Linked DNA regions of Homo sapiens. The protein of the gene in region 7 purifies or fractionates together with the protein of the main gene of each other region. This does not show direct contact. Each region holds a gene or a part of one and is shown on either strand. Other genes may lie near its edges. The genes, in order: GOLM1, HOMER1, MARCHF5, BNIP1, TXLNG, GOLM2 and GRAMD2B.

Region 1 (4,267 bases), on a different chromosome or scaffold from region 7:
CCAGGGCTGCTTGCTTGTCTGTCTCAGATTCTGCTTCATTTTCATCCATGTTGTAGTCATCTTCTCCTCTCAGTTTCTGCTGGTTTCTCCCTGTAAAATTAGCACATAAAACATAAGCTACATCATTTCTGTCTTGATGTCACAGGACTATCAGAGCACAAGTGCTGGGGGTTAGCCATACTTGCTCACAATCAGATCTGTCTGCTGCCTCTCTGGAAATGGTAGGGACGCAAGGGCTGGCTTCCAGGACAAGCACATGCATTATGTGTACTCCACTTGGACTCGGAATCTACAGACAGCATGGCCCTAAATACAAGGGTGCATTCTAGGCAGAACATGGAGAAACTAACAACCCAAATCTCAATTTTTTAAAGAGATAATCAACTCAAGATAAAAGAAAGGTGCCACTGTTTTAGGAAGGAACGGATATCTACAGCTAATGACAGCATCTCCTTAGAATGGAGAGAGGAAATGGAGCTGCCACTGTGAGACACGTGAGAAGGTGTCCCTCATACTTAGAGCATGAGAGCACCCATTACTCTATTCTTCCCTGGAGTGGGCAGCAGCCAGAGAAGATGAGGACAAAAGGCTTTCAAGAGACCTACTCAAAGGGTTTAACTTACATATTTTATATGTGTATGCAGGCTGGTAAACAAAATCTTTTTTTTTTTTTTTTTGAGATGGAGTCTCACTCTGTCGCCCAGGCTGGAGTGCGGTGGCGTAATCTCGGCTCACTGCAACCTCCGCCTCCGGGGTTCAAGCGATTCTCCTGCCTCAGCCTCCCGAGTGGCTGGGATTACAGGCACGTGCTGCCATGCCCAGCTAATTTTTGTATTTTTAGAAGAGATGGGGTTTCACCATATTGGCCAGGATGGTCTTGAACTCCTGACCTCATGATCCGCCCACCTCGGCCTCTCAAAGTGCTGGGATTACAGGCATGAGCCACTGCGCCCGGCCAAACAAAATCTTTTTTAAAAGTGCACACCTGGAAAAGCAGCTCTAGTCTCTTTCTCTGGCTCACTGCCTGGGGTGGAAACTGCACAGGCCTATGTGTCCACCGCGTTTCTTCAAATGAGGTCACCACACCTGCATCTAGAAGCAGGTGCATCCTGCAGGCACTGTGGCATCTCAGGCCCACCTTTGTTACGCTTTGTGACCAGCCGCTGAGGGGTCTGACACTGGAGCGCCACAGGCTGAGCGAGCCAGTGAGATCTCCCCGCCTCACACACCACAAGCATCTTCTTGCTGGGTGAGCACGGAACACAAGGACAGAGCAGGGATACTTAGGGGGAGGCTGACAAAATCCAATTCTTTAACTGGAACTTGGAAGGACACGTTCTTCAGTAAGACACTGAAGTGAAAATTAGATTTAAATGGAATCAAGGTAACTTCTGCAAATAAGTGTATTCTCCAACTTCTGTGACTTGGTCCACCCCAGAGCGCAGGTGTCATGTCCTCAGAAGTGTTCCTGGCTCAGGTGGGAAGGACATTTTCCATATCTGAAGGGACTGAAATACATCCTGGAATAGTCGGTTGATCTCCAATTCCTACCCTTTATTTCTTTAAAAAGAAAAGAGTCAACCAAACCAAAAAGGAGTGATTCACATGTCATTTTTTCTCAATGTTCACATATGCATTAACCTTCATCTACCCAATATTCCTTCCTTCCTTCCTTCATTCATTCACTAGGCACTGATTGTCTAAATGGCACCAGACACTGCACGACGGTGGACATACAAAAATGGGGCATGTGGCCTGCCTGCCAGGAGGGGGCGTCCACTTGATGCTAAGCACCCATCTGCAGGCCATCCACTTGCAAGGTCCCCTCGACTCCCTGCCAATATTGCATCTAAAACCTCGAGTTCTAGAGCATATGCTGCTCTTCCTTCCTGCCTCCCTCTTGATAACGAATAAGAAACCTTCAAACGAAAAGGAATTGGCAAATTGTGGACTGCTGTTTGGTAAAATTCAGGGTGATATGTTGGTGCTGGGAAGGACATGGAGGTGGGCTGGGTGTCTGGTGGAAGGGAGTCCACAGCGGCCCCCGAAACTTCACACCCACCTTCCCCGGCAGCTTCCTGCTCCTCCTCCTGTCCGTCGGGGATGACAAGCTGGTCTCGCTCAGGGCCCTCCATCTCTGGATTTTCCTGGCTCACTGACAGGGCAGCCTGCACCTGTGGGGTCTGGCCCAGTTCTCCGGCTCCCCCGAAGCCTCTTCCACCTACAGGTCTGTCTTCCACCACCTGCTCCCGGCCTGGCTCCTGCGGCAGCCTGTCCCTCTGAGGCTCCTCATTCACCACCTGGATCTCATTGGTTTCCTCTGTGCACAGAACACAGTTAGCTGTGACCTTGCCAGCATTTGATTTAAAAAAAAAAAAAAAAAAAAAAGCAAAACCTGGTGCCACTCAATTCCCAGAGCCTTCCCAAGGAGTGGGGGTGGGGTGGGCTGCACACAGGAGAACAACCAGGTAGCTCCTTTTGTGACCTCAGCCACAGACTGCAGGCCTTTCTGTGCCTGCAGCTCATCGTCAGAACCGCGACAAAGGGAAAAGTAGCTTACCAAAAAAAAAAACAAAACAAAAAAAAAAAAACACCTGGACTAAATTACCTTGACAAGGTACAAAGGGAAAAGGGTATCCTGCTGAGTGACCTGATCATCGGGTCCGCTGGAGCAAGCACTTGGGAGCCAGGGCAGGCAGGCCCACCCAGGGCTTGCTCACAGACACAGCAGCCTCCTGGTTCCCAGTGTCTGGGGCTCAGCCGCCTCCCCCGAGTCCCACAAGCCCACCAATGTCCTGCATAAAGGTGCAGCCTGGGCCTTTCTCTACACAGCTGCCCAGGAACAAGGCACTTCGTTTACAAGGAGGAGACATCTGTCAGAGAAGCCCCAAAGCCCCAATTCCAGGGGCCCAGAGAGACACGTCCCTGCTCCTGGCTGCGCCGCTGCCGGGTTCACTGACTGCCTCAGCAGCTCGCTGGGACTGCTTCCTCTGATGGGGCTCTGGAGAGCTGGGAACAGGGCAACTGCTGGGCTCTGCTTACCTTTCTCAACTTGTCTCTTTGAATCCAAAACCACTTCGGAACTGGGGGCTGGTGTCTGGGACTTGCTGTTACCAAGCACGTTTCCCTTCCCTTGTGGCACCTCTGTGTGTGGCAGGCCTGCTGCCTGCAGCCTGGGCTGAGGCTCACTGAGGGCTTGGAGCTGAAACAGAAGCACAGGACAGCCAGCCAGGGCAGGGCTCTGTGAACAGAAGCCGTAAAAGAATCCTACCAATGCAATGAATCCCACCAATCCCACCACCATATCCTTCCAACCAAGACCCCGAGAAACGCCACAGTCTACTCTGGTCACGCCCTGGTCATGTGGCGTAAATCAGAAGACAAGAGGTTGAGTCAAGGTCTCCCAGAAAGTACTGTCAATACAGAATAAAACTGGGCAGTGATTCTGCTGAGAGGAAGCATTTACGGAATAATAAAATACCTAGGCGGAAGATCAACAACAAAAAAGACATGAACGACACAATACTCCTTGACGAAACAAACATCTGCAGAACCCTCAGCCTAGCAAGGGCAAACACACCTGCTTCTCAGGCACACACACAATATTTTCCAGGATGGACAAATGGCAGGCCACAAAGCAAGCCTCCATACACTTAAATATTTAACTAAAATCACACAAAGTAAATTAATAGAAATGGAATGGATTATAAATCAATAACAGGATGAAACTTATGACATTTGCAAATATTTGGAAATTAAACAACACACTCCTAAATAACCAGTGAGTCCAACAATAAACCACAACACAAATTAGAAAATGCTTGGACAGCCAGGCGCGGTGGCGCACACCTGTAATCCCAGCACTTTGGGAGGCCGAGGCAGGCAGATCACCAGAGGTCAGAAGTTTGAGACCAGCCTTGCCAACATGGTGAAACCCCATCTCTACTAAAAATACAAAAATTAGCCAGGTGTGGTGGCAGGCACCTGTGATTCCAGCTACTTGGGAGGTGAGGCAAGGAGGTGATTTCCAGCTGAGGCAGGAAAATCGCTTGAACCTGGGAGGTGGAGGTTGCAGTGAGCCAAGATCATGCCATTGCATTCCAGCCTGGGGCGACAGAGCGAGACTGTCTCTCAAAAAAAAAAAAAAAAAAAAGAAAATGCTTTGCCACAAAACAAAAACACAGCATACCAAAACTTATGGGAAGCAGCTCCAGCAGTGCTTAGAAGAAATGTACACCTTCAAGCATCTGTATTAGAAGACTTCCAG
Region 2 (4,267 bases), about 47 Mb from region 7:
GCTCATCTTTTTTACGGTATCAGATCTAAACGCTCAGATCCTCTGTATATTGGCCCCAACCTTCTCAACCATCCACACTGCCCAAGATACTCAGTGAGTACTTCCAACTAAAAGCAGGCAAATCTCCTTGTCCTAAGAACAAGTGATATTCATTCCCAACTTGTTGATTTAACTAGAATGTCCTCTCTTGCCTCTGAAAACCACTCGGACCTAACCGAACCCTTAACTCTTAGCTCAGCATGTGCTTTCTCCAGAAAGCCATTCCTATCTGCTCAAGTCTTCAAGGCTCTCCTCTGGTTCACAAAACCAAGCATCTGTTCAAAAATCTTGGGAATTATTTCACTTATTGTTTAATGTGTATTTGTTTTGTCTCATTATATAATAAATTCCTTAAAGGGAGTTCCAATTCTGATAATGATGAAATAGTTTTTATTGGAGTAACTTTCCTATAGGTAACAATTGCAAATTGTGGGCAAAATGTAAAAGTCAACTGTTTGAAGGACCTGGTGAGTAACCAAATTGGGCAAAAGACTGCAAGAAAGCAGTCACTTTGGGTGATTTCCACATCTTTTTGCCTGAAGGTACTCTGCAGTCTGGCTGCATTGCTTGACTGAACAAGCAGAAATCCATAGTCTTATTTCTCTGAGAAGCCTGAGAATTTTAGGACTCTGCAGAACACCTGGCACAACTAGGAGTAGGAAAAGAGCTGGAAGGCTGAAAGAACTAAACTGCGATGGTGCTCAACAGAGATGACAGTTTGAAGTTCTGCTAGTCCCTGCTAAATTAGAGGGCCTTGGTAAATACCTCAAGCTTTGCAGTGAAACTTTGGAAAGGGTTATGTCTTAGAGATAAAGATTTCCTAGGACAATGTGATTTACCCTAGGGTTACAGCAAAATTGAAATACATGAATTCTAACAAAGCATAAGTACACAACTCCACAAATTCAAGATAATCTCCAAATAACTGCCTGTTGAAACAAAAACTCAACATTATTCAAAAATAACAAAATCTGTGGTCTCTACAACATCTCATTTGCAATGTCCAATACAAAATTAAAAATGACTAGTCATTTTTCTGAAAAAACAGTAAAATGTAACTTATAATCAAGACAAAATTTATCTAAATAAAAGTGGAGATAATTTGTTGGCAGTACACTTGGAGTACAAAAACTGCTCAAGGAGGTTATTCAGGCTGAAGGGAAACAATACCTGATAGAAATTCAGATCTACAGGAAAGAAGCACAATGGAAACTGAAAATATGTGAGTAAATAAATATATTATGTTTCTTAAGTTCTTTAATATTCAATTGACTATTTAAAGAGAAAATTTCTTAAGGGCAGAGATTACACAATAAGGAGACATGATAGCTCCTTAATATTTTCTGGCTATGACAATTGTCATAAATTTTTTTTTGTGGTAAAAAACATATATCATAAAATTTATCATCTTAGTCATTTTAAGTGTATAGTTCAATAGTGTTAAGTATTTATATTCACATTGCTGTGAAACAGATCTCCAGAACTTTTTTAACTTGCAAAACTGTAAGTCTATACCCATTAAACAACTCTCCTTTCCCCCACCTCTCTTAAGTTAATTTTTACACACAGGATAGAATAACATTTACTCAAGTTTCTAACATTTCCACTCTGTCTCAACTGCATTTCCTTTTCTTTCTTTTTTTTTTTTTTTCTGAGATAAGGCCTTGCTCTGTTACCCAAGCTGGAGTATGCAGTGGCGTGATCTCAGCTCACTTTAGCCTCTGCCTCCTGGGCTCAAGTGATGTTCCCACCTCAGCCTCCTAAGTAGTTGGAACTATAGGGACATGCCATCACACCCATCTAATTTTTGTATTTTTAGTGGAGATGGGGTTTCACCATGTTGCCCAGGCTGGTCTTGAACTCCTGGGCTCAAGCAATCCATCCTCCTTAGCCTCCCAAAGTGCTGGGATTATAGGTGTGAGCCAATGTGCCCAGCTTGGAATTTTTTTTAAAAGGAGAAATTAAAGGCATCTGTTGGGTGAAGCACTTCTATGCCTTGAATTAAAAAAAAAAAAACTTCTTCTTTTTTTTTTTTGTTTTTTAGAGACAGAGTCTTGCTCTGTCACCCAAGCTAGAGTGCAGTAGAGCCATCATAATTCACTGCAGCCTCCAATTCCTGGGCTCAAGCAATCCTTCCCACTCAGCATTCCAAGTAGCTAGGACTACAGGCGTGTGTCCCCATGCTTGGTTAATTAAAAAAAAAAAAGAAAAAAGATTTTTTTTTTTTTTTTTTTTAATGGAGATGGGGTCTTGCCATGTTGCCTGGGCTAATCTCAAACTCTTGGCCTGAGAGCATTAAAACACTTTACAAGTAATTATCTGGGCTTCTGATATTAATGGTATTGAAATTTCTGGTTTTCTTTTTCTGCACCAAATCTCTAATATTACCAAAGTTAATAATTTTCTACTTGTATTTTTCAAATTGTTCCTTCTTTAAAAAGAAAATAATAAAAGCAGCTCATTGACTCACTGCAACTCATTGAGACAGTGCAATTACACGGCACTTAAGTGTCTCAACAAATTTTCATAGGAATTGTACAGAATACATACTTTTGACTCAGTGCAACTACATGCCAATTAAGTATTCAATTAATCTTCACAGGAATTGTACAGAGTACTTATTATTCCTATTTTACAGATGAGAATACTGAGCTGGAAGAAGGAAATAACTTATCAAAGATCATACAGATAATAACCGGCAGAACTGGAATTCGCACTCTGGAATACTCTGGTCTTGTAAACCAGAAATGGAGAATCCCCTCCCCAGGACAACTCAGGAGAAAAGCATTCCCGCTTCACCGTCAACACCCAAAGCTAAAATTCTAATTAAACTACTCCCTGAATTTTTTCTCAGCACACACTTTAACTACCATGTCAGTACTAATCAACTAGCACTAATACATTAGTGCTTTTATGTACTTGTGCATTACTGCTAGTCCCCATGGATAATATGGGGAATCAACATGGTTTGTTGACTTCAAAAGGCGTATATTCTTCATTCTCATTAAACTATGGAAAATATTTTTCTTAATCAAACAAATGCATATCATACAACCCATATCTATGTTCTGACATCCTAGAACTAGAAGATATCCCTGTGCTGAATCTACATGCAAATTTCTTCTGATCAAGAAAACCTGTTAGCCCTAAATCCCTATAGACATCAGCCCTGAAATTACCCGCTTGTGCAGACGTTCTGCTTCCTCTTGATAGGCAGCAAGTTGCTGTTTCCATTGTTTCACATTGGCAGTGGACTCCAGCAGGGCTGCAGTGAGTTTGGCATTATTTCCTTTGAGGGTAGCCAGTTCAGCCTCCCAATGTTTGCTGATTGCTGAACTAAAATAAAACAAAAAGAAAATTCTATCCATTACACCAACTACTGTTACCTTGAAGGGACAGCAAGACTCAGTTCTATTGTAGGGTTTATAGTCTAAGAATGTTTTCTTTTCTTTTTTTTTTTTTTTGAGATGGAGTCTCGCTCTGTTGCCCAGGCTGGAGTGTAGTGGCGCAATCTTGGCTCACTGCAACCTCCGCCTCCTGGGTTCAAGCGATTCTCCTGCCCCAGCCTCCTGAGTAGCTGGGACTACAGGCACACGCCACCATGCCCAGTTAATTTTTTTGTATTTTTTTAGTACAGACGGGGTTTCCCATGTTGGCCAGGCTGGTCTTGAACTCCTGACCTCAGGTGATCCACCTGCCTCAGCCTCCCAAAGTACTGGGATTACAGGCGTGAGCCACTGTGACCAGCCCTAAGAATGTTTTCAAAGACAACCTCAAAATACTAAAAAACACAAATACTTTACCAAAATATTCCTAGTAAAGAAAACCTGGCAAGTGAAGAAATATAAAAAGTACTCAAGTACCAGGCTTAACGTGGAATGTTTCCAACCTTCATTATGACAGATACAGTTATCTACAGAAGAGTTTCCACCCATTCTCTTTTAAGGAATAAACATTATAGCCTGAAAAACATCTATTAAAAAAACCTAACAATGTATTACATTTTTTACGTGTGTCAAACCCTAAAGTACAATGTTATTCCTTAATGAAAACATATGAGGATGCTTAAATGTCATAAGGTTTGGGATATGTAATGTAGTATTTCTTTTGAAATTGTTTTTGATTTATTTCATCTTATTCAGGACCTTAAAATGTCAAAAATACAAACATTTGCTACAATAAACTGATTTCATAGGAAAGGCTAGGCCTACAAACTGGTTCTAAAGAC
Region 3 (5,065 bases), on a different chromosome or scaffold from region 7:
TTCCTTTTAATTGGACTTCCTACTATTCCTGTCATGCTGATATTAGGCAAGATGATTCGCTGGGAGGACTATGTGCTTAGACTGTGGCGCAAATACTCGAATAAACTACAAATTTTAAATAGTATATTTCCAGGTAAGGCACTGAACTGTGGTTGTAAAGTGCATACCAAATTGATCTTGAAGAACAATAACATGCTTTTTTAGCCATGTTTGAAGGTAGTCTAACTCTTCTGATTTATTAGCACTAACGCACTGCATTTTTTTCCTCTAGGGATAGGTTGTCCTGTTCCTCGAATTCCAGCTGAGGCCAATCCTTTAGCAGATCATGTCTCTGCTACTCGAATCTTGTGTGGAGCCCTTGTCTTTCCTACTATTGCTACAATAGTTGGTAAATTGATGTTCAGTAGTGTTAACTCTAATTTACAAAGGACAATCTTGGTAAGACGGCTTTAACATTACTTATATTACCTTGCAAAAGAGAATGAAGTGTATTTGTTTTTAAAAGGTGGGGAACTGTATAAATATTCGGTCTGTGGCTCCTATGCATTAAGCCTCTATTTGAGCCTCACTATCATTCAATAGCTTGAGTGGAAATAAAAAGAGGAGAAACCACTGCAGCAGTTCTGGCCTTTTGGAACTATGTTGTAGGTGCTTTCTCTCCTGGCATATGCATGAATCATCACACCTGTCCCTCTTGCCAGTGGGATTACAGTACTTTACGATCAGACCACCTGGTTCAAATCCCATCACAGAAATTGTCTTGCTGTGAAATCTAAATCAAATGTCTGGACTTTTTGTTCCTGTAGTATGGTGATGGTAATAATCAGGATTATTGTGAGGATTGTATAAGTACTAGCACATAGTAAGCACTCATGTTGTTTGCTATTATTGTTACTCCCACTTCTCCCCTCTGGTGGCATGTAACCTGCACGGACCTTGGAGGACTGAACAAAGGGGGCAAACGTGGGAATAAAAGACAAAGACAAGAGAGTATATTTGGAAGAAGGGGTCAGGGGGCACCTTGCCTCTAGTGGACAAGGGCCCTGAGCTTTACACAGCCCTCTGTATTTATTAGGCAAAAGAGATAGTGAGAAGCAGGGGTGATTGTCGGGTAATTGTCAGTCCATTTGGCAGTTTGGTTCACAGCAGGCTTGCGAGACTGCATCATTTGAACAGTAGGCGCTAGATTTCCCAGTAGATAAGTTCAAGGAGCCCTGCACCAGGGAGTGATGGCCCCCAGCAAACCCTTTGGTGGCAGGCTCAGTGTGAGTTTACTCACATCCTGCATTCATGATAAACAGTTTGCTGTTTGGTCATATAGCCTCCAGTGGAATGCTGAGTTGGTCACGATCCCTTTGGCCTTTCTTGCTCCCAACAGTGGCAGTCTGCACATAGTGCCCTAGCATTCTTCTTTGTATATCAGAGTATATGTAGAACTACATGGAAGAAAGACTAGTCAGAAAGGATAATGGAGAAGGCATCTGTGTCCCCTGTTACCTGTAGTAACAGCGTATAGTCTGTCTCTCTCCCTATCTCATCTCCTAGTAGAAAAAGAAAACTGTTTCATTTGCAGTCATCTGAATTAGTTTAGCATCAAAGCCTACGTCTTTTGTGATCTAAATAAAATTATTTTTATTACTCTGTTTCTCTAAATCTGCATTATAAAAAGCTAATTTTCCTTTTTATTTTAGGGTGGAATTGCGTTTGTTGCCATAAAAGGAGCATTTAAAGTTTACTTCAAACAGCAGCAATATTTACGACAGGCACACCGCAAAATTCTGAATTATCCAGAACAAGAAGAAGCATAAAACTGACTTCTGGTTGTTCTGCAGTTCTCTCATCCTTATGAATCTGTTGTGTTGTTTTGATTCCATCATTAATGCACTTGTGGAGACTTGTGATAAGCTGCTGCTCCTATATTTTTTAAGAAATATAATAAAGCACTTAGGGCAGGGGAAATCATCTCGGTAATCATGGAACCTAAGGATGTGATTTGTTTTCATTGTTTGTATGTACTACTTTTATGGCAGTCATATGAACCATTATCTTAGCATGGTAAACCTGGGTTTTGTTCATATTTTCTCCAGACAGAAATGCAAAGATCAAACTGTGCAAATATTAAAAAAATGCACATGCTGTTTTATTCAAATGCCTCTTTTGTACATGTTCATGTTTAGTGTTTTCTCAGAATCAGCAACTCAAGGTACTATGAGGATTTTTCTCACTGACATAATTTGATTACATACTAAATAAGAGGATATGTTAATATGAGGAAATGTAAATTAAATTAGTTATAAATAAATAACCAAAAATGTATGTAAACATTCAAATGATTATCTGAACAAATGAGATTTTGTGGTGTTTTCTTTAACCCATGTGATGTCCTCCAAAATGTGTAGGGTAAAAATTCACAGGGCTTCCAGATCACTTTTTCAATATTAAATTTTATTTACATAATGTTGACATCTCATACTTCATGAAGTAATTTTGACTCATGCAGTCGTGTGTGTGTGTGTGTGTGTGTGTGTGTGTGTGTGTGTATTTGTGTGTTTCAGTGTTTCATCAGGTCCTTCCATCTCTGGGAGTTTTTTCAACCCATATTTCTAGAAATTACAGCTGCCAGTTTATAGTAGTTTGAGCAGAGGATGATTTGCAAAAATAAAAATAAAGTTATTTTACTCTCCTCTTGCATTGATTCAGTTATTGAGATATTCGTTGATCACCTCCTATTTCCCAGGCACTGTGCAGAGTGCTGTAGGACATAGTGGTGAACAAGACAGACTTGGTCCAAGCTCTTACAGAGTTGACAGTCTAGTTTCAGCACATAGAAAACCAGCAGTGAATAAACCAAGGTGAGGCCTTGAGCTCTTTGTTTTTATATTAATGAGGAGAAAAGTATGAAAACAAGAAGTCTTAAGTAAATATTGAGGTCATTGTTTTTGGCTTAAGTTTATTATAGAAAATCAACACTAATGTTTTTAGATTTTAATTGTCCTATTGATGAGGCTAGCACCTTAATCACTGTTTAGTTTTGTATTCATTTTTAAAAGCAATTATTGAAGCCATTTTCAATAGATTGGCCATTTTAATGTTCAGCAACCTGAATGGTTATTTTTGTTAATTAAAATTAAATTTTTAAGAGATATTTTCAAAACCCTATTTATTTTCTTGTTCACAGTAATGCATGTCAATAATAAATGTTTCCCCTTACTGATAAGCGGCCACTTTAGGAGTGTAGCAAATATAGATTGAGCTATGTTAGTTTGCAATAATATATGTTAACTTTAGTAATTAAAGACTGGTTTCTATAGTATGAATGTCTTAATTTTGAGTTATATGATGTTTATTTGAATGACTGTTGAACATTCAAATTTGTATTATTTGGAGATGAAGATTTGACTAACAGTGAGCCTTATTAAGAACACTACTACAGTTCTGAAGGGGAAATATAACATCTATGGTTATATATTTTAAAAACTTAGATTATAGGCTGTAATTATAAAATATATTGGCTTTTGTTTTCAATGTGAAAGATACATTAAATGGACACATATCTTGCAAAATTTTGTTGTATAGAACAGTTTTTAGGCAGCCTTTACTAAAGTTATGCAAACACACAGTTCCCCATTTACTACATTAATGCCCTTGACAGGGAGTAGCTGCTTGGTTTTATAGGTATTAGGGCTCATGAAGGCCGGGGAACAACTCTAATCCTTTTGGGGCAGGAGGGAGGGTTTTTTTAGGGTTGCGGGGAGGGAACTGCAAGTGCCTGAGGACCAGAGTGGCCTCTAGCCCCGAATTGAACACTTTTAAACCTAAAGAGCCTTATTATTATTAGCTCGAGAAATACCACATGCCAGTCTTCCCAGGAAGGTGACCTGCCTGACCATGAAGCAACAAAAGAGCATAGGCAGACTTAAAGTTGGATAGACCTGGGTTCAAATCATAGTTCAGCTTTCAATAACTGTATGTATGATTTTGGCTAAAGGATTTGACTTTCTCTCAACTGCAGTTTTCTTAATCTTTGAAATGCAAATAATGTTTATCTCAGAAGACTATTTCTAGGATTAACTGAGAGATTAAAGGAACAGCAGCACTTAGGCTCAAAATCGCCCCTACAAAGCAGTAGTTGTTTCTTAATTGCTAAGTAATCTGTTTGCACTCTAGGAAAAGTAAATGGAGAGGTAAAAGAAAGGCATTGGGGACAAATGAAAGAGATGATGTAGATTTTTCGGATGGGTGGGTATATTTTATTTTCCAGTTTATTTTCATATTTCTTTACTGTGTTATTTCTGGAAACTTTAATGTTTTAAACCTCTTTTATAAAATTCAATGACGACTACTAGAATTCTTTTCAAAAGTTAACTTATCTCCAAAGTGGCTGAAAATATTGTTTACCATTACATGATTATGAAATGACTGTGAAGAATATAAAATTAAACTTAGTGACTTAATTAGTCACTGCCTTGCTAACTTTGCTGTAATTTTTTTAAACGTCTTGTTTTTAATATAGCAAACTATCTCAATACTGGCTGGATTAGGTTAAATAAAGAATTTTTATGTTCTCTAGGTGTACTTTGTTAAATCTCAAAACATTCTGTACATACATAATTTTTTTTAATCACAGTTATCGAGATACTAGTTTTTGTAAGTAAAAGTAATCTGAATTTAAAAAAAAAACTGTATGGAAGAATTTGTCCTAATTTTGTAAACAGGCTAGCCTATATTCTAAGTATGTTCTAATGACTAAACTACATCCCCACTCACCCACCCTCAAAGCCTCTTGCACTGAGTATAATTAAGCAACTAGACAAGATCTGTGGGTGGTCTCATGCCATGATGTCTTAAAGTGTATTCGAGTGAGTTGGGAACACAAACTGCTTCTGAGATATTAAGAACTTAAATTTCTGAAGTAGAAGATTAGAATCCTCTAGAATGAGTTAAAGGTCTTTTCCTTGCATCCATTTGGGGATTATATTGGTTTTAAGTCATTTCATTACCCCATCTGAGAGACAGATGCTAAGAGGAGAAAGGGCATAGAATTGAACAGTCCTGGATGCATATG
Region 4 (4,267 bases), about 47 Mb from region 7:
TGTTAATATTAGTTGGTCTAAACCAACTCTATCACTGTATGGATGGTGTCATTTCATTTCATTGCCTTGAGAAAGGCCTTTCATCTGTTCAATGTCTCCTAGGATATCCGTGATTGTTCAGGACCCTTAAGTGCTCTTACTGAACTGAATACTAAAGTAAAAGAGAAATTTCAACAGTTGCGTCACAGAATACAGGTGGGTATTCTCAATTCAGTCAATGAAGGGGGCTCTGTCCTGGGTATATCCTCTGCTTGAGAGCCGTCTGGGTTCTTCAAACACCAGCTGATGGGAGCAGTAAACACTTAGACAGGGAGGGTGACTCTGTACTAACCTGCTCTCCAGGTAAAAACGAGAAACTTTTGGCCGGGCACGGTGGCTCACGCCTGTAATCCCAGCACTTTGGGAGGCCGAGGCGGGGAGATCACGAGGTCAGGAGATCGAGATCATCCTGGCTAACACGGTGAAGCCCGTCTCTACTAAAAATACAAAAAATTAGTCGGGCATGGTGGCAGGTGCCTGTAGTCCCAGCTACTCAGGAGGCTGAGGCAGGAGAATGGCGTGAACCCAGGAGGCGGAGCTTGCAGTGAGCCGAGATCGAGCCACTGCACTCCAGCCTGGGCGACAGAGCGAGACTCTGTCTCAAAAAAAAAAACAAGAAACTTTTGCATGCAGAACACTGCCAGCTGTGTGAACGAGTGAATGGCAGGAACACCATTATCCTTGGAATTTTTGAAATCCTGGGGCCACTTCAAATACTTTCTCTTCTCTGCCATTCTTTCTACCCTATTCATTCATTCACTACCTCAATCCATCACACTCCTGGGTTTTTTTTTATGCTGTTACTTTGCTCAGCATCTTCCTTATTTCAATAGTCACCAGTCACATCATATACACATTTAGTATGCCTGAATTCAAGTATGGTATATGTGCTGTCTCAAAAAACACTAGAGGGTGACAAGTAGCAGTTATGTTTGTTTGTTTTATTTATTTCACATTTTATTCTTATTACATTGGGCTGGGCAAAGAGTTGTGCACCACTGTATAGATCATGTTATTCTGTTGCTTTCATTTTTAAAAATGAAAATGAGGCCAGTAGTTTGAGAACAGCCTGGCCAACATGGCAAAACCCTGTCTCTGATAAATGCAAAAATTAGCTGGGCATGGTGGCACACACCTGTAATCTCAGCTACTTAGGAGGCTGAGGCAGGAGAATCGCTTGAACCCAGGAGGTGCAGGTTGCAGTGAGCAGAGATCGTGCCACTGCACTCTAGCCTTGGTGACAGAGCAAGACTCTGTGTCAAAAAAAAAAAAAAAAAAAAAATATATATATATATATATATATATATATATATATATATATATATATATATATATTTTAATAGAGATGGATTTTTTGCTCTATGTTGCTTGAGCTGGTCTTAAACTCCTGGGCTCAAGCAATCCTCCTGCCTCAGCCTCTGAAAGTGCTGGGGTTACAGGCATGAGCCCAGACTATTGTGTTGCTTTCAGACAGAATTGGGATTCAGCTTCTAATTGTTTCCAAGTTCAGAATCTAGATCAGAATCAGAGGATGAAGACCACTTGTGGGTCTGGGGGCTGCTGAGAGGAAACACGTATGGAGCTGACTATGGAGGGGTCATGTTTCAAGGCTGCCATCTGGGCATCCAAGGATCCTGCATGCAGCTCATGGGTAGAGGGGCCCACAGCAGCCCCTCAAAGTGAATAGGGATGGCACAGGCCCAGGGCTGGAACTCAGGAGTTGGAAGGATGACTGCATCTGCACACTTAAAAAGATGCTGTCCATCTGTATCCTGGAATCCTGTGTAGGCCCTCTCCCTGAGGACAGGAACAGGGTTGGCTCCTTGGCCTCTGTTTAGCCTCATGAGTAGTTCAGTAAAAGTCCTGCAAACTTGTCATTATCTGGAGACATTCCTGCCGGCTCCTCTTCATGCCCCTCTACTTGAAGCACTAGGCAGTTGCTTTATATTGTTCATGATTCTTCTTCAGTTATTCAAATTTGAGATAATTGCATTCTTTTAGGGAACTCTGGATCTCCTGGTCACTCCAAGGGTTGATTACTGTTCTGATGGTTTTTCTGGTTTCTTGGTTTCTTCTTCCTTCTTTATTTCCTGAGGGTTTCTAGTAATTTCAGTCTGATGTCTTACGTTCTCCATTTTTATTCCTGAGTTTTCTCCTGGAATTCTTCTCACTGCAGCCACAGGACCTAATGTTGGGTTGGCAGAGAACTAGCACTTACTCTGCCCTAGTGGGACCTAGGAGAGTCAGGAGGTACCTGAGTGTGGAAACATGCCTGCTCCTCTAGACTTCTGGAGGTCTCTTAGAAGTAGCAGTTTGAATAGTGGAGATGTTTCCCCTGCTGTACCTTCAGTGAGGGTGAGGTGGGTGTCATGGATCTGCCCATCTGTATTAGTCTGTTTTCATGCAGCTGATAAAGACATACGTGAGACTGGGAAGAAAAAGAAGTTTAATGGACTTCTGACATGGCTGGGGAGGCCTCACAATCATGGCAGAAGGCAAAGAGGAGCAAGTCACGTCTTATATGGATGGCAGCAGGCAAAGAGAGAGCTTGTGCAGGGAAACTCCTGTTTTTAAAACCATCAGATCTCATGAGACTCATTCACTATCATGAGAAAAGTGCAGGAAAGACCCACCTCTGTAATTCAATCATCTCCCACCAGGTACCTCCCATGACATATTGTGAGAGTTACAATTCAAGATGAGATTTGGGTGGGGACACAGCCAAACCATATCACCATCCCTGGATGGGTCTTGTGGCACCTGGTCTTGTGGTATTGGGGTTTTGTATTAGGCCTTTCTTGCATTGCTGTAAAGAAATACCTGAGGCTGGGTAATTTATTTAAAAAAATGGGTTTAATTGGCTTAAGGTTCTGCAGGCTGTATGGGAAGCATAGCAGTATCTGCTTCTGGGGAGGCTTCAGGAAGCTTCCAGTCATGGCAGAAGGCAAAGGGAGCAGGCATGTCACATGACAAAAGCAGGAGCAAGAGAGAGATTGAGTGAGAGCTCACTTACCACTAAGGGGATGACTTATGCCATTCATTAGGGATCCACCCCCATGATCCAAACACCTCCCACCAGGCCCCACCTCCAACACTGGGGATTACCATTCAACATGAGATTTGGGCAGGGACAAATATTCAGACTATATCAGGTCTAAAGACTTGAGCTTTTTTGGCCAGCACAGTGGCTCACGCCTGTAATCCCAGCACTTTGGGAGGCCAAGGCGAGTGGATCGCCTGAGGCCAGGAGTTCAAGACCAGCCTAGTCAACATGGTCAACCTCCATCTCTACTAAAAGTATAAAAATTAGCTGGGTATGGTGACCCGTGCCTGTAATCCCAGCTGTTTGGGTGGCTGAGGCATGAGAATTGCTTGAACCTGGGAGTTGGAGGTTGCATTGAGCCAAGATTGTGCCACTGCACTCCAGCCTGGGTGACGGAGCAAGACCCTGTCTCAAAAAAAAAAAAAAAAAAGACTTGTGCTTTTCATATAACATGGCCCCCAAAGCCCACCAGCAACTCTGTTGTTGCTTAACAGAGGAAGACAGTCTGTTCTAAAGCTGGTAGAAAAGCTGGCCAGTTGGACCCCTGAGAAACAGTATGTCTGTGTCCTGTGTTTGCCTACCTCAGAGATTTTCAAGGGCAATTTTGAAAATGTGTAATTTTTGCTATTGGAGTTAACTATATGATTTTCAGCAGCGTCACCATACCTAGCTGATCTCTTCCTGCCTTCATCTCCAGTACTGATTTAATCATCTTAATTTTTTATTTTTGAAAAGATGTTCCTTTTACATGTTTTATGTATGTGTCTGTCTATAAGTATCAACATTCAGTGAAAAGTCTCAGTTATGCCCCAGTTTTGTTTTTTGTTCCACTCTTCCAAACAGGTAACCACTTTTGTTACTGATATGTCATTCCAGAGTTTCTCTACTCAAATATTTAAAAAGACAAATTTCTTTTTTTTTAAAATTTCTTCCTTGTTTCTCATCTAAAAAGTAGCATACTAACACACAGCTTTTAAAAACTTTATACTTTTGTTTTTTTGTTTTTTTTTAAGACGGAGTCTGGCTCTGTTTCCCAGGCTGGAGTGCAGGTGTGATCTCTGCTCACTGCAACCTCCACCTCCTGGGTTCAAGCGATTCTCCTGCCTCAGCCTCCCAAGTAGCTGGGATTACAGGTGTGTGCCACCACACACAGCTAATTTTTCGTATTTTTAGTACAGACGGAGT
Region 5 (4,267 bases), on a different chromosome or scaffold from region 7:
CCTGGGACCAGGGAGGAGAACAGGGAGAAGAGTGCCACTTCCTTCTTATTCAACTACACCTAACAAATAGGCATCTTTCCCCCTTTTTGTTAAGTGACAGATCTGCCAATCAGTGGAATCCAAATGGGTGGTGAGGGACAACTGGTATAAACACTTTCCCTTGACCTTCATTGCTCTGGCTCATTCAGAAGCCTCTGTAACAGTATTTAATAGACTACTTCCTCATTTAATTCTCAGAACTATCTTATAGGCAGGTATGATAAACAAGCAGCCTCAGTGATAAGGTAATTTAAGTACGATGTCCACGGTCAGGAACCTAGGAAAGGAAAGCAGAGACTGAATCCTTGTCTTTCTCTGTAAAGGGCATACTCTCTAAAGAGCATGCTCTTCCCAGGTTATGTTAAAAATAAACAAGTGCGGCCGGGCACAGTGGCTCATGCCTGTAATCCCAGCACCTTGAGAGGCCAAGGCTGGAGGATCCCTCGAGCCCAGGAGTTTGAGACCAGCCTGGACAACATGGCAAAACTCTGTCTCTAATAAAAAATAATAAAAATGAACAAGTGTAGTGACGGTCACACAACTCTGAATATATACTAAAAAAAAGTGAGGCCGGGCACAGTGGCTCATGCCTGTAATGCCAGCACTTTGGGAGGCTGAGGTGGGTGGATCACCTGAGGTCAGGAGTTCAAGACCATCTTGGCTAACATGATGAAACCCCGTTTCTACTAAAAATACAAAAAATTAGCCGGGCACGGTGGCGCATACCTGTAATCCCAGCTACTCGGGAGACTGAGGCTGGAGAACTGTTTGAACCCGGGAGGCAGAGGTTGCAGTGAGCCGAGATCGCACCACTGCACTCCAGCTTGGGCAACAAGAGTGAAACTCCGACTCAAAAAAAAAAAAAAAAATTGAATTATACACTATAAATGGGCAAACTGTATGGCATGTTACCCAAACAAATTACTAAATAAATGAAGCCAGAGAAATGATGGAGTTCTAAGGAGGGATCATAAATTGGAGGCAGGGTAAGTTCTAGGAGTTGTCCTAACTACTACCTGGGAGCAGGCAGCTAAAGGATCCAGAGTAACTGTCACAGCATGTAAGAGCACAAAGAACACACAGAACCATTAGTAGGTAAATGACAAGAAAAGAGAGGCAGACTAGTGCTAAACTAAGGGATGAGGGAACCTGATCTCCCCCACTGGGGAAGAAACCAAGAATGAGTAAAAGGATCCGGGAAAGGTCTACTTTGGACACAGCTTCTTTAGTCTCATAACCTAGCAGTATAAGTGCTAATATTGTACATTTACTGGTAACATCTATATTAGACTGTGTACATCATTTGCCTTTTAATAAGTGAATGTTAATGACTGCATTAAATTTTGCATTTAACTTCTGTGGCTATTTCTTTTATAAAAATAAATTATTATTTTTATTTTTTTTTGAGACAGTGTCTCGCTCTGTCGCCCAGGCTGGAGTGCAGTGGCGCAATCTCGGCTCGCTGCAAGCTCCGCCTCCCAGGTTCACACCATTCTCCTGCCTCAGCCTCCCGAGTAGCTGGGACTACAGGCGCCCACCACCACGCCTGGCTAATTTTTTGTATTTTTAGTAGAGATGGGGTTTCACCATCTTAGCCAGGATGGTCTCGATCTCCTGACCTCGTGATCCGCCTGCCTCTGCCTCCCAAAGTGCTGGGATTACAGGTGTGAGCCACCGCGCCCAGCTAAATTATTCTTTTATATAAATAAAGGATGCTGGATTCCATGATTTGCAAAATCACTTCTAGTTCTAAAACTGTAACTCAATGAATATCTGCAATCTGAAAGATACTTGTATTAGTGTAAGTACCTATTTCAGCAGCAAAAGAGCAGGACATTCAAAGATTTTAATGCCCAAAGCCACTGAAATATACTTGGACCTGATCTATTTACAGGACAGGGGCTGGGTCACACAACTAGCATCTTTAAGCCACAGACTCTTAGATGTAAAATGGTCCTTTACTTTTATGGGTTACCTAAGTGAACATCCCTGTCCCAATTTTATGAAGTCATCCTTCCCTAGATCCATATGGACCAATCCTGATACACCTCTGAAACATCAAGCCTTCTTTTTATTTGTCTTACTTCCCCAGACCACTTCAACTCTTTGCTAACACCAGGTTATATGAACTTTATTTACAAGAAGTTAAAGAGAGTCTCTCTAAACTCTCTACCTTTCAATTTATTCAAATTACACTTGGAGGTACTGTTGCAGGAAGTTGTAGCATGGCATACCTCCTAAATCATAAATCTCAAGGTTAACCTAGGGCCTAGGTGAATGAAGCAAAAGATATTAAGAGGCTCAAAACTCCTCTGGTCCCCAAATTACAATCAATTTTCGATATCCCCTAATCATCCAACTCCATCCCTCATAATTTGTCTTCGTTTAGCAAAAACTATTACTATTACTATTTTATCTACCAGCATGTTTTGCTCACTTTCAACTAGGGGCACTTATGTGACCTTTACTATCTGAGGAAATGTTAACATGAGAGATACGAAATATGGACAATGGCTTTGGAGCCCAAAGAGCCGAAACTCTGAATATACCACTTAGCATCTCCTGTGTGGCCATAGGGAGGCCAACCTGTCAGTTTCCTTATCTGTAAACTGGGATGTACAGTACTTACCTTCTTAGCGCCATAAGTAGATATAATAGGTATAAATTGCTGATAGATATAAACTGCTGACACATAGCAGAACTGTTATAATATTTGAATGAAGACATTTTACAGGCTGCGTGCAGTGGCTCACGCCTGTAATCCCAGCAGTTTGGGAGGCCAAGGCAGGAGAATCATGCTTGAGCCTAAGAGTTTAAGACCAGCCTGCGCAACATAGGAAGACCCTGTCTCTCAAAAAAAAGAAAAAAAACAGCCAGACATGGTGGCACACACACCTGTAGTCCTAGCTACTAGGAAGGCTGAGGCAGGAAGATCACTTGAGACCAGGAGTTCAAGGCTGCAATAAGCGTTAACTACACTCCAGCCTGGGCAACACAGGGAGATCCTGTCTCAAAAAAAAAGAAAAAAAAAAAAGATATTTTACAAAATGCATTCATTCTCACTTTTAATATGGCCCATTTTGCAATCCAAAAGACCCATAAAGAAATGAGTTTCTAAGCTACTGGCACATCTTTCTTGCCAAACCATTCTACTACCTTGAGAGTAGGGAAAGAAGAAACATGAAAAAAAAAAAAAGTAGCCAGTAAATATTACTCAGGACAGACTATAAGGTGGGAAGTAGGAGATAACAGAGGTCATTCTAGGGACGTTTTGGAAATGCAACACAGAATGCAAATCAACACCCTAAGCAATAAATGCTAATACAATTATTTTGATAGCATAGGAGGAAAACACCAGTTATTTTATGTATCTTTTCCTTCAAGTAATAAAATGTAAGTATTTATAAGTGCCAACAGAATTTCAACTAGGAGGTAGATTCAAACATAAAAATGTACTCCCAGGGTCTTAATGGATCTTAAAGGTCACCTTACCTATTTCTACCCTCTTCTAGAAATGTCCCATCTCAATGTTGATGAATATGATATTAAATTTGTATATTATTGTATACTTTTTTTTTTTTTTGACACGGAGTCTCCCTCTATGTCACCCAGGCTGGAGTATAATGGCACGATCTTGGCTCACAGCAACATCCGCCTCCCAAGTTCAAGTGATTCTCCTGCCTCAGCCTCCCGAGTAGCTGGGATTACAGGCATGCATCACCATGCCCAGCTAATTTTTGTATTTTTAGTAGAGATGGGGTTTTACCATGTTGACCAGGCTGGTCTTGAACTCCTGACCTCAGGTGATCCACCTGCCTCGGCCTTCCAAAGTGCTGGGATTACAGGCATGAGCCACTGTGCCTGGCCTATACTTTTTATTTTTATTATTATTATTATTTTTTAGAGACAGGATCTCACTCTCTTGCCCAGGCTAGAGCAGTGGCCCAATCGTGGCTCACTGCAACCTTGACCTCCTGGACTCAAGTGATCCTTCCACCTCAGCCTCCCAAGTAGCTGGAACTACAGGCACATACCAATGTGCCTAGCTAAGTTTTTTATTCTTCATAGAGACGGGGTCTCCCTGTGTTGCCCAAGCGGGTCTCAAAATCCTGGCCTCAAGCAGTCCTCCCGTCTCGGCCTCCCAAAGCACTGGGATTACAAGCATGAGCCACCATGCCTGGCCCATACTTTATAAATACTGACACACCCGTTATATTAACTAAAAGTT
Region 6 (3,537 bases), on a different chromosome or scaffold from region 7:
GCGCTCCAGCCTGGGCGACCCAGTGAGACTCCGTCTCAAAAATATATACATAATTTTTTTTAAGTAAAGAGTTCATTGATAATTGATTAGCATGTATATAAAGTAAAAGTGTGAAATGGATATAATTTCAGGCTTTAACACATATTAAGACAGATTTGGGATTATCATACCTAGTGGATTATACTATTTAAAGATAGATCATTTGTTAAGAATATGGGGTAGGCTGGGTGCAGTGGTCACAGCTGTAATTCCAGCACTTCGGGAGGCTAAGGTGGGCAGATCGCTTGAACCCAGGAGTTAAAGGCCAGCCTGGGCAACATGGTGAAACCCTGTCTCTACAAAAAAAAAAAAAAGGAAAAATTAGCTGGGCATGTGGTGTGTGCCTGTAGTCCTAGCTACTCAGAAAGTTGAAGTGGGAGGATCCCTTGAGCCCTGGGAAGTTGAGGCTGCAGTGAGCCGAGATTGTGCCACTGTACTCCAACCTGAGTGATGGGACTGAGACCCTGTATCAAAAAAAAAAAAAAAAAAAAGGTGCAAAATGGTTACCTGAAATTCTAGAAATGAAAATTTCTGTAAGTTTAACAGGAAAGTTGTTGAAAAAGAAAGTTGGTTTGTTTGACTTTTTTTTTTTTTTTTTTTTTTTTTTGAGATAGGGTTTAACTCTGTTACCCAGGCTGGAGTGCAGTGGTGTGATCTCTGCTTACTGCAACCTCCACCTCCCAGGCTCAAGCAATCCTCCTACCTCAGCCTCCTGAGTAGCTGGGACTACAGGTACACACAACCATGCCTGGCTAAATTTTGTATTTTTAGTAGAGACTGGGTTTCAGCATGTTGCCCAGGCTGGTCTCAAACTCCTGAGCTCAAGTGATCTGCCTGCCTCTGCCTCCCAAAGTGCTGGGATTGCAAGCTTGGACAACCATGCCTGGCCTGTTTTGCATTTTTGAAAGAAGAAAGTTTTAGAGTGTTAAAACCTCTCATACCTAAAGTAATAGTTTTTAGAAAACTATAGTATACATATGAATTTAGATTCCAATGTATGACTTTCTTTAAATTATATTAACAAAAATTAAGCTATTGGGTAATAGTATGTGACCCAGAATGTAAGAAAAGTGATTTTTTAAGTCTGCAGAGAAGCCAAAAGATATCATAAAAATCCATGTACTCTACGCCAGGCGCGGTGGCTTATGCCTGTAATCCCAGTACTTTGGGTGGCTGAGGCAGGTAGATCACAAGGCCAGGAGTTTGAGACCGGCCTGGCCAACATGGTGAAACTAAAAATACAAAAATTAGCTGGGTGCGGTGGCAAGCGCCTTTAGTCCCAGCCACTCAGGAGGCTGAGGCAGGAGATTCCCTTGAACCCAGGAGACAGAGGTTGCATTGAGCTGAGATCATGCAACTGCACTCCAGCCTGGGCGACAGAATGAGACTGCATCTCAAAAAAAAAAAAAAAAAAAATCCATGTACTCCAAAGGGACTCTCCAAGGCTCTCATCAAAATACTTTTCATTCTTGTTCTAATATAATTTTAATACTCTTGGCTGAGGCCGGTGGATCACTTGAGCCCAGGAGTTCCAGACTAGCCTGGGCAAATGGCAAAACCCTGTCTTTACAAAAAATACAAAATGTAGCCTGGTGTGGTGGCGTGCACCTGTGGTCCCAGCTACCTGGGAGGTTGAGGTGGGAGGATTACTTGAGGCCGGGAGGTTGAGACTGCAAGTGAGCCATGATAATACCACTACACTTGAGCCTGGCCAACAGAGCAAGATTCTGTCTCAGAAAAACAAACAAACAAACAAACAAAAAAACCTCTTCAGCAGTCTCATTTCAAAACCTGTAATTTGCAGCAAAATTAGAAAAGAAGGATTGCTATTGGCAGGTAAATTGACAAGAAGGCAAAGTGATCACAACTCATAGCCAAGAAAGAGCCAGAAAAATCTGTAATAGCCAAATAAATCAAACTCCATAGCACTATTTGGAGTAATTTAATACAGCCACTCAAAGAGGCTTTGAGGATTTTAGTAACAGTAATCTTTTTTTTCTGTTTAGTTAAGAAAAGGTTAAACTTTGGTTGTTATACCCCATTTAGGAAGCCAAGAGGAAGCTACTTTTGCAGAGACGTAAAGAAATTCACTAAAATGTTAAATGTTGGGATTATGAGTGACTTTTATTTTTCTGTCTTTTATAATTTTAAAAATACTAATATTGGATACTTTTATAATTTAGAAAAAAAAATTGATGTTTAAAAGCCTGAAAATGTGTACAGAAATGTTTCTACCAAAGCTTTAATTTAAAGGACTAAATATCATCTATATAGAAATAATATATTTAGGCTGGGCACTGTGGCTCACGCCTGTAATCCCAGCACTTTAGGAGGCCGAGGTGGGCAGATCACCTGAGGTGAAGAGTTTGAGACCAGCCTGGCCAACATGGTAAAACCCCGTCTCTACTAAAAATACAGAAATTAGCCAGGCATGGTGACAGGTGCCTGTAGTGCCAGCTACTTGGGAGGCTGAGGTAGGAGAATCGCTTGATCCTGGGAGACAGAGGTTGCAGTGAGCCAAGATCGCACCACTGCACTCCAGCCTAGGCAACGGAGTGAGAGTCGGTCTCAAAAAAAAAAAAAAGACTACATTTATATAAAAATATTAACTCCTCAATATTTGTGCGTTCCTAAAGTTTTACTAGTTATGTCTATCTGGCTCTATTTCTGTTTGTCTGTCATCTATGTCTATTTTCTAAAGATTTGTTAAAATTAATCTTGCAAAATAGTTCCACATACTTTTCACTCTTTAGCCAAGCAACTAAGAAATAGAACACTATTTGTACTAGGTGTAAAATAACAAGCAGGAAACTACCTTAAGGCTATGAAAAACTGAGACATTAATTGGATTTCTGCAGTGATTTAAAAAATAATATGTTGATACAAAATTATTTTACTTACAGATGATGAAGAACGAGAGCTTCAAATGGATCCTGCAGACTATGGAAAGCAACATTTCAATGATGTCCTTTAAGTCCTAAAGGAATGCTTCAGAAAACCTAAAGTGCTGTAAAATGAAATCATTCTACTTTGTCCTTTCTGACTTTTGTTGTAAAGACGAATTGTATCAGTTGTAAAGATACATTGAGATAGAATTAAGGAAAAACTTTAATGAAGGAATGTACCCATGTACATATGTGAACTTTTTCATATTGTATTATCAAGGTATAGACTTTTTTGGTTATGATACAGTTAAGCCAAAAACAGCTAATCTTTGCATCTAAAGCAAACTAATGTATATTTCACATTTTATTGAGCCGACTTATTTCCACAAATAGATAAACAGGACAAAATAGTTGTACAGGTTATATGTGGCATAGCATAACCACAGTAAGAACAGAACAGATATTCAGCAGAAAACTTTTTATACTCTAATTCTTTTTTTTTTTTTTTTTGAGACAGAGTTTTAGTCTTGTTTCCCAGGCTGGAGTGCAATGGCACAATCTTGGCTCACTGCAACCTCCGCCTCCTGGGTTCAGGCAATTTTCCTGCCTCAGC
Region 7 (4,267 bases):
CTATGCCCTTTTTCTTCCCCAAAACTAATGATCAACTTTTCAAATATGTAGCTTAAAAAGTCAAACAGGTCAGAACTTACTTTGCTTCAGTGGTTCCTCCGTTGGGACACTAAGAAACAACTTGTGAAAGTGCATATTGGCCTTGTACTACAATGAGAACAAAATACAAGCATCACCATTCTCACTTTCTTGTGAAACATCACAAATTCAACTTCAACAACAAATTTTCCCTCCCTTAATAGTATCTTTAGGAATTCCTTCTCACTGATCTTACAGTCTCTGACACAAGCCTTCAGTAAAACACAGTGAAAGTCTGGGCACACAGTTTCATTTTCTAACAAGTTTAATGCTTTGCTGGTTGGATATAATGATGCAGCTGCTGGTCAGCCTACTGCCGAGGTAACAGGGCTGGACAAGGATGTCCCTGATGAGAAATGGGATGAAATTCTAAGGAATCTCATTAGGGAAGATACTGGATCCCAGGTACTAAAGGTACCAGTGAGTACTCTCAGAAGAGTACAGTGGTTCAAAGCTTTGTAGTCAGGTAAACCTGAGTTGAAGTCTTGGCTGTAGTGGCTCTAGCTCTTGTTGTGTGACCATGGCTTAGTCACTTAATCTCCCTGGGCCTTGGTTTCCTCTTCTGTACCAGAGGGCAAAAACAGTGCCAGCCTCAAGGGATGCCATGAGGCTTAAATGGGATAATACATGTAAAGGACCTATAGTCTAAGGCAACATATGGCCACTCTTCCTACTGTATTATTGTGAAGGCATTTCCTTAGCCAGTGACAGGAGTAGGATGCAGTAGTAGGCTACTGACAAGACAAGTAGGATTTCATACAAAGACTTCACTCTCCAGGGCAGCAGAAGGCCCAAGACCATGAAAGCTGTAAATCACTTCATCCTCAAGGGATCTGTTTTCACAACTGTGACAATAACAATGGATAGCCAGCAATTTACAGCTTGTAAAACACTTTCACCTGCATCATATAGCTATTAAGAGTAGAACTGTTAGCTGGATGTGGTGGCATGTGCCTGTAGTCCTAGCTACTCGGGAGGCTGAGGCAGGAGGATCTCTTGAGCCCAGGAGTTCAAGCCTGAAGCGAACTATGGGGTAGAACTCGATCCTCCCTCCACAGGATCAATCTGCCTCACGGGATGCTTCTGAAGAAAAATTCTTATAAGGAGAATGGGTAGGAGGCCCTGGATGGCTTTATTATCCAAACCAAGAGTGGTCTCAATGGCAAAACTGGCCCTGTTTTGCCATAAAGAACTACAGACCAGGTCATCAAGATGATAGATGGTCCCTGCAAGTCAACTATTTTACAGATAAACTCCTTATAGAAAGATACCTTGATTAAAGCTAGGTGTTCTATGGCTTCACTGAGCTTTTGTTTTCAATGGCTACAGTGAGCAGTGGTTGCACGCTTGATTTAAAATATGCTAGGCCATAAACGCTTCAAAAATGTCAACGTAATAAATGGCAAAAAAGGTAGTGGGGCTGCTTTCAATTAAAAGGGACATAGCAGGCTGAGTGCGGTGGCTCATGCTCGTAATCACAGCATTTTTGGGATGCAGAGGTGGGTGGATCGCCTGAGGCCAGGAGTTTGAGATGAGCCTGGCTAACACGGCAACACCCTGTCTGTATTAAAAATACAAAAATTAGCTGGGTGTGGTGGTGCACATCTGTAATCCCAGCTACTCAGATGGTTGAGTCATGAGACTCACTTAAACCCGGGAGGTGGAGGTTGCAGTGAGCCAAGATTGTGGCACTGCACTCCAGCCTGGGCAACAGAGCAAGACTCTGCCTTGAAAAAAAAGAGAAAAGACATAGCAATTACATGCAGTATGTGACTCTTGATTGGATCCTGAAGAGGAAAAAAACACCTTTATAAAGGATATTTATTACTGGGACTACTATGGAAATTCAAAAGTGAATTTTGTATTAATAATATTTTAATACATTTCATATTTAAATTTCTTGGGTGTGCCGATGGTTTTTGGTTTAGCTCTTAGGAAACACATATTCAAGTATTTAGAGGGGTGAAGAATTAAGAAAAACCCCAAACTCCTGTCCCCAGCACATGCATCACACTCTCTGATGACATAGAACTAGGCTTTGTTTCCTATCTGGGTATATTTTAAAGCAGAACCAAAATTAGTTCTGGAGAAGAATCCTGACCCTGTTCAAAGGTCTAACTCCTCTGTGTGCAGTTGGCTGGCCTACTACTATTCAGGCAGGTGCCTTATCAGACTCTTCAATTTCAGTACAAGGATGTCACAACTCCCCTTGTCCTGCCAATTATTGGATAAGCACATGACTTTGTGTTGGTCCCTGATCTCTGGGTATCTGTCAGAGTTCGAGGCCACAGCATGGAACTCACTACCATGCAATGTGCTGAAAAATGAGTTGTGGAATATAACGTTGCTGAAAAATGGACTGGAGGAACTGCTGCCTGTTTGTTCTTCTAAATTCTCTAAACTCTATACCTATATTAGTCTTGACCAGCAGGAAGGTGCATACTTGGGTTCCTTCTTGTCACTGGCTTCAGTAGCCCTGTCACCCTCTAAGACAATACAAATTCCATTCTCAAATTACCTGGCTGGAAGATGAAGACTTTTTTCTTTCAGTCTTAGGGTCATTTTTGCTTTCTGTTTTACAGTCGTTCTTATCACTTGCTAAAGAGGCACCATCAAAACTGGATTTTGACCTAAAGAAAGAAAGTCCAGGGTGTCTATAAGATAATTTTTTTTTGAGACAGTTTTGCTCTGTTGCCCAGGCTGAAGTGCAGCAGCATGATCACGGTTCACTGCAACCTCCCCGTCCAGGACTCAAGCGATCCTCCCACCTCAGCCTCCTGAGTAGCTGGGACTACAGGTGTGTGCCACCATGCCCAGCTCATTTTTTTGTAGAGATGGGGTTTCACCACGTTGCCCAGACTGGTCTTGAACTCCCGGACTTAAGCAATCTACCTGCCTCGGCTTTCCAAAGTGCTGGGATTACAGGCATGAGTCACCACACCTGGCCTATGAGATACATTTTTCATTAATTTATTGTAATAAATCTTGATTATTATACTATCTTCTAAGAAAACCTGACATTTGTTTTTCTTTTCTGGATATCAAAAATCATTCATGATACTCTGAGAATATTTACACAGCACATGCTTTAGGACACTGCAATGATTTCATCAGGCTGTAATCAAAAACTGTAGAAATAGTAACTTACAGAGGGTGAAATAACAATCAAGTTGTGAAAATAATTACATCATTTTAAAACGAAACTATTTTAATCAGTATTTAAAAAGGAGTACTTGAGGCAAATTACTAAATAATATTGCAGCTATAGTTCAATCAAAGAATATTTTTGTTTCAGAATTCCACTAATATATAACAAGTATTAATTGAGTAGGGCATTGTATTAAATGTCTTGGGGCCCATAACACAGTTTGTATCCTTAAGGCGCCTGTGTATGCATGCATCAAACACTTTTTTAAAAAGGCAGTACATGATTTAGCACCAAAAAAAATACATATTATAGGAGTTAGGAGAAGGTATGGAGCCAATAAGTCTAACAGGAGGTAAGAGAAGAGGAAAACAGGCCGGGCACAGTGGCTCATGCCTGTAATCACAGCACTTTGGGAGGTCAAGGTGGGCGGACCACCTGAGGTCAGGAGTTTGAGACCGGCCTGGCCAACATAGCGAAATCCCATCTCTATTAAAAATACAAAAATTAGCTGGGCATGATGGTGGGCGCCTGTAGTCCCAGCTACTCGGGAGGCTGAGGCAGAAGAATCGCTTGAACCCGGGAGGCAGAGGTTGCAGTGAGCTGATATTGCACCATTGCACTCCAGCCTGGGGGACAGAGCAATATTCTGTCTCAAAAAAATAAAGTTAAATTAAAAAAAGTAAATAAATAGAAGAGGAAAACAGTAGAATAATGTGGGCTTAAAATGCTGGGCCTAACAGGATAAGCAAGAATTGGGTATGAGGAAAAGAGACAAAACATCCCAGAGTGGGAATACAATAAAAGTGAAATCAGAATAAAAAAAATGAAACCACAAAACATGTTTGAAGCCAAGTCTTCCTTTTTCCTGTTAAGCACAGAGGTCAGAGCTCCAGAGTTTCCTTCTAAGATGATTCTAGTCCTGGTTTTCCATTTTAGTGGATGTGTACATTTGTACGTAACTTCAACCCTACGGCTAAACGCAGTCATTTCAAAGTAGAATGCATAGATGATTTTTGGAGTTATATATATGAATAAGTTTTA

The links.
Region 1: the proteins of GRAMD2B (region 7) and GOLM1 purify together in Homo sapiens (affinity purification with mass spectrometry; 3 studies listed by BioGRID and IntAct, with this or other methods). This does not show direct contact.
Region 2: the proteins of GRAMD2B (region 7) and HOMER1 purify together in Homo sapiens (affinity purification with mass spectrometry; 3 studies listed by BioGRID and IntAct, with this or other methods). This does not show direct contact.
Region 3: the proteins of GRAMD2B (region 7) and MARCHF5 purify together in Homo sapiens (affinity purification with mass spectrometry; 3 studies listed by BioGRID and IntAct, with this or other methods). This does not show direct contact.
Region 4: the proteins of GRAMD2B (region 7) and BNIP1 purify together in Homo sapiens (affinity purification with mass spectrometry; 3 studies listed by BioGRID and IntAct, with this or other methods). This does not show direct contact.
Region 5: the proteins of GRAMD2B (region 7) and TXLNG purify together in Homo sapiens (affinity purification with mass spectrometry; 3 studies listed by BioGRID and IntAct, with this or other methods). This does not show direct contact.
Region 6: the proteins of GRAMD2B (region 7) and GOLM2 purify together in Homo sapiens (affinity purification with mass spectrometry; 3 studies listed by BioGRID and IntAct, with this or other methods). This does not show direct contact.

What each region holds. Positions count from the first base shown.
Region 1 is NC_000009.12:86,033,306-86,037,572, forward strand, and holds part of GOLM1 (Golgi membrane protein 1), read right to left. Parts: intron 3,203-4,267; coding exon 3,043-3,202; intron 2,321-3,042; coding exon 2,063-2,320; intron 91-2,062; coding exon 1-90.
Region 2 is NC_000005.10:79,398,681-79,402,947, forward strand, and holds part of HOMER1 (homer protein homolog 1), read right to left. Parts: intron 3,376-4,267; coding exon 3,219-3,375; intron 1-3,218. UniProt on the Homo sapiens protein: Postsynaptic density scaffolding protein. Binds and cross-links cytoplasmic regions of GRM1, GRM5, ITPR1, DNM3, RYR1, RYR2, SHANK1 and SHANK3.
Region 3 is NC_000010.11:92,349,400-92,354,464, forward strand, and holds the end of MARCHF5 (E3 ubiquitin-protein ligase MARCHF5), read left to right. Parts: coding exon 1-133; intron 134-271; coding exon 272-438; intron 439-1,691; coding exon 1,692-1,808; 3' UTR 1,809-4,565; downstream 4,566-5,065. UniProt on the Homo sapiens protein: Mitochondrial E3 ubiquitin-protein ligase that plays a crucial role in the control of mitochondrial morphology by acting as a positive regulator of mitochondrial fission and as an important regulator of immune response.
Region 4 is NC_000005.10:173,146,764-173,151,030, forward strand, and holds part of BNIP1 (vesicle transport protein SEC20), read left to right. Parts: intron 1-102; coding exon 103-195; intron 196-4,267. UniProt on the Homo sapiens protein: As part of a SNARE complex may be involved in endoplasmic reticulum membranes fusion and be required for the maintenance of endoplasmic reticulum organization. Also plays a role in apoptosis.
Region 5 is NC_000023.11:16,792,454-16,796,720, reverse strand, and holds part of TXLNG (gamma-taxilin), read right to left. Parts: intron 1-4,267. UniProt on the Homo sapiens protein: May be involved in intracellular vesicle traffic. Inhibits ATF4-mediated transcription, possibly by dimerizing with ATF4 to form inactive dimers that cannot bind DNA. May be involved in regulating bone mass density through an ATF4-dependent pathway.
Region 6 is NC_000015.10:44,410,394-44,413,930, forward strand, and holds part of GOLM2 (protein GOLM2), read left to right. Parts: intron 1-2,942; coding exon 2,943-3,013; 3' UTR 3,014-3,537.
Region 7 is NC_000005.10:126,468,118-126,472,384, reverse strand, and holds part of GRAMD2B (GRAM domain-containing protein 2B), read right to left. Parts: intron 2,709-4,267; coding exon 2,597-2,708; intron 148-2,596; coding exon 81-147; intron 1-80.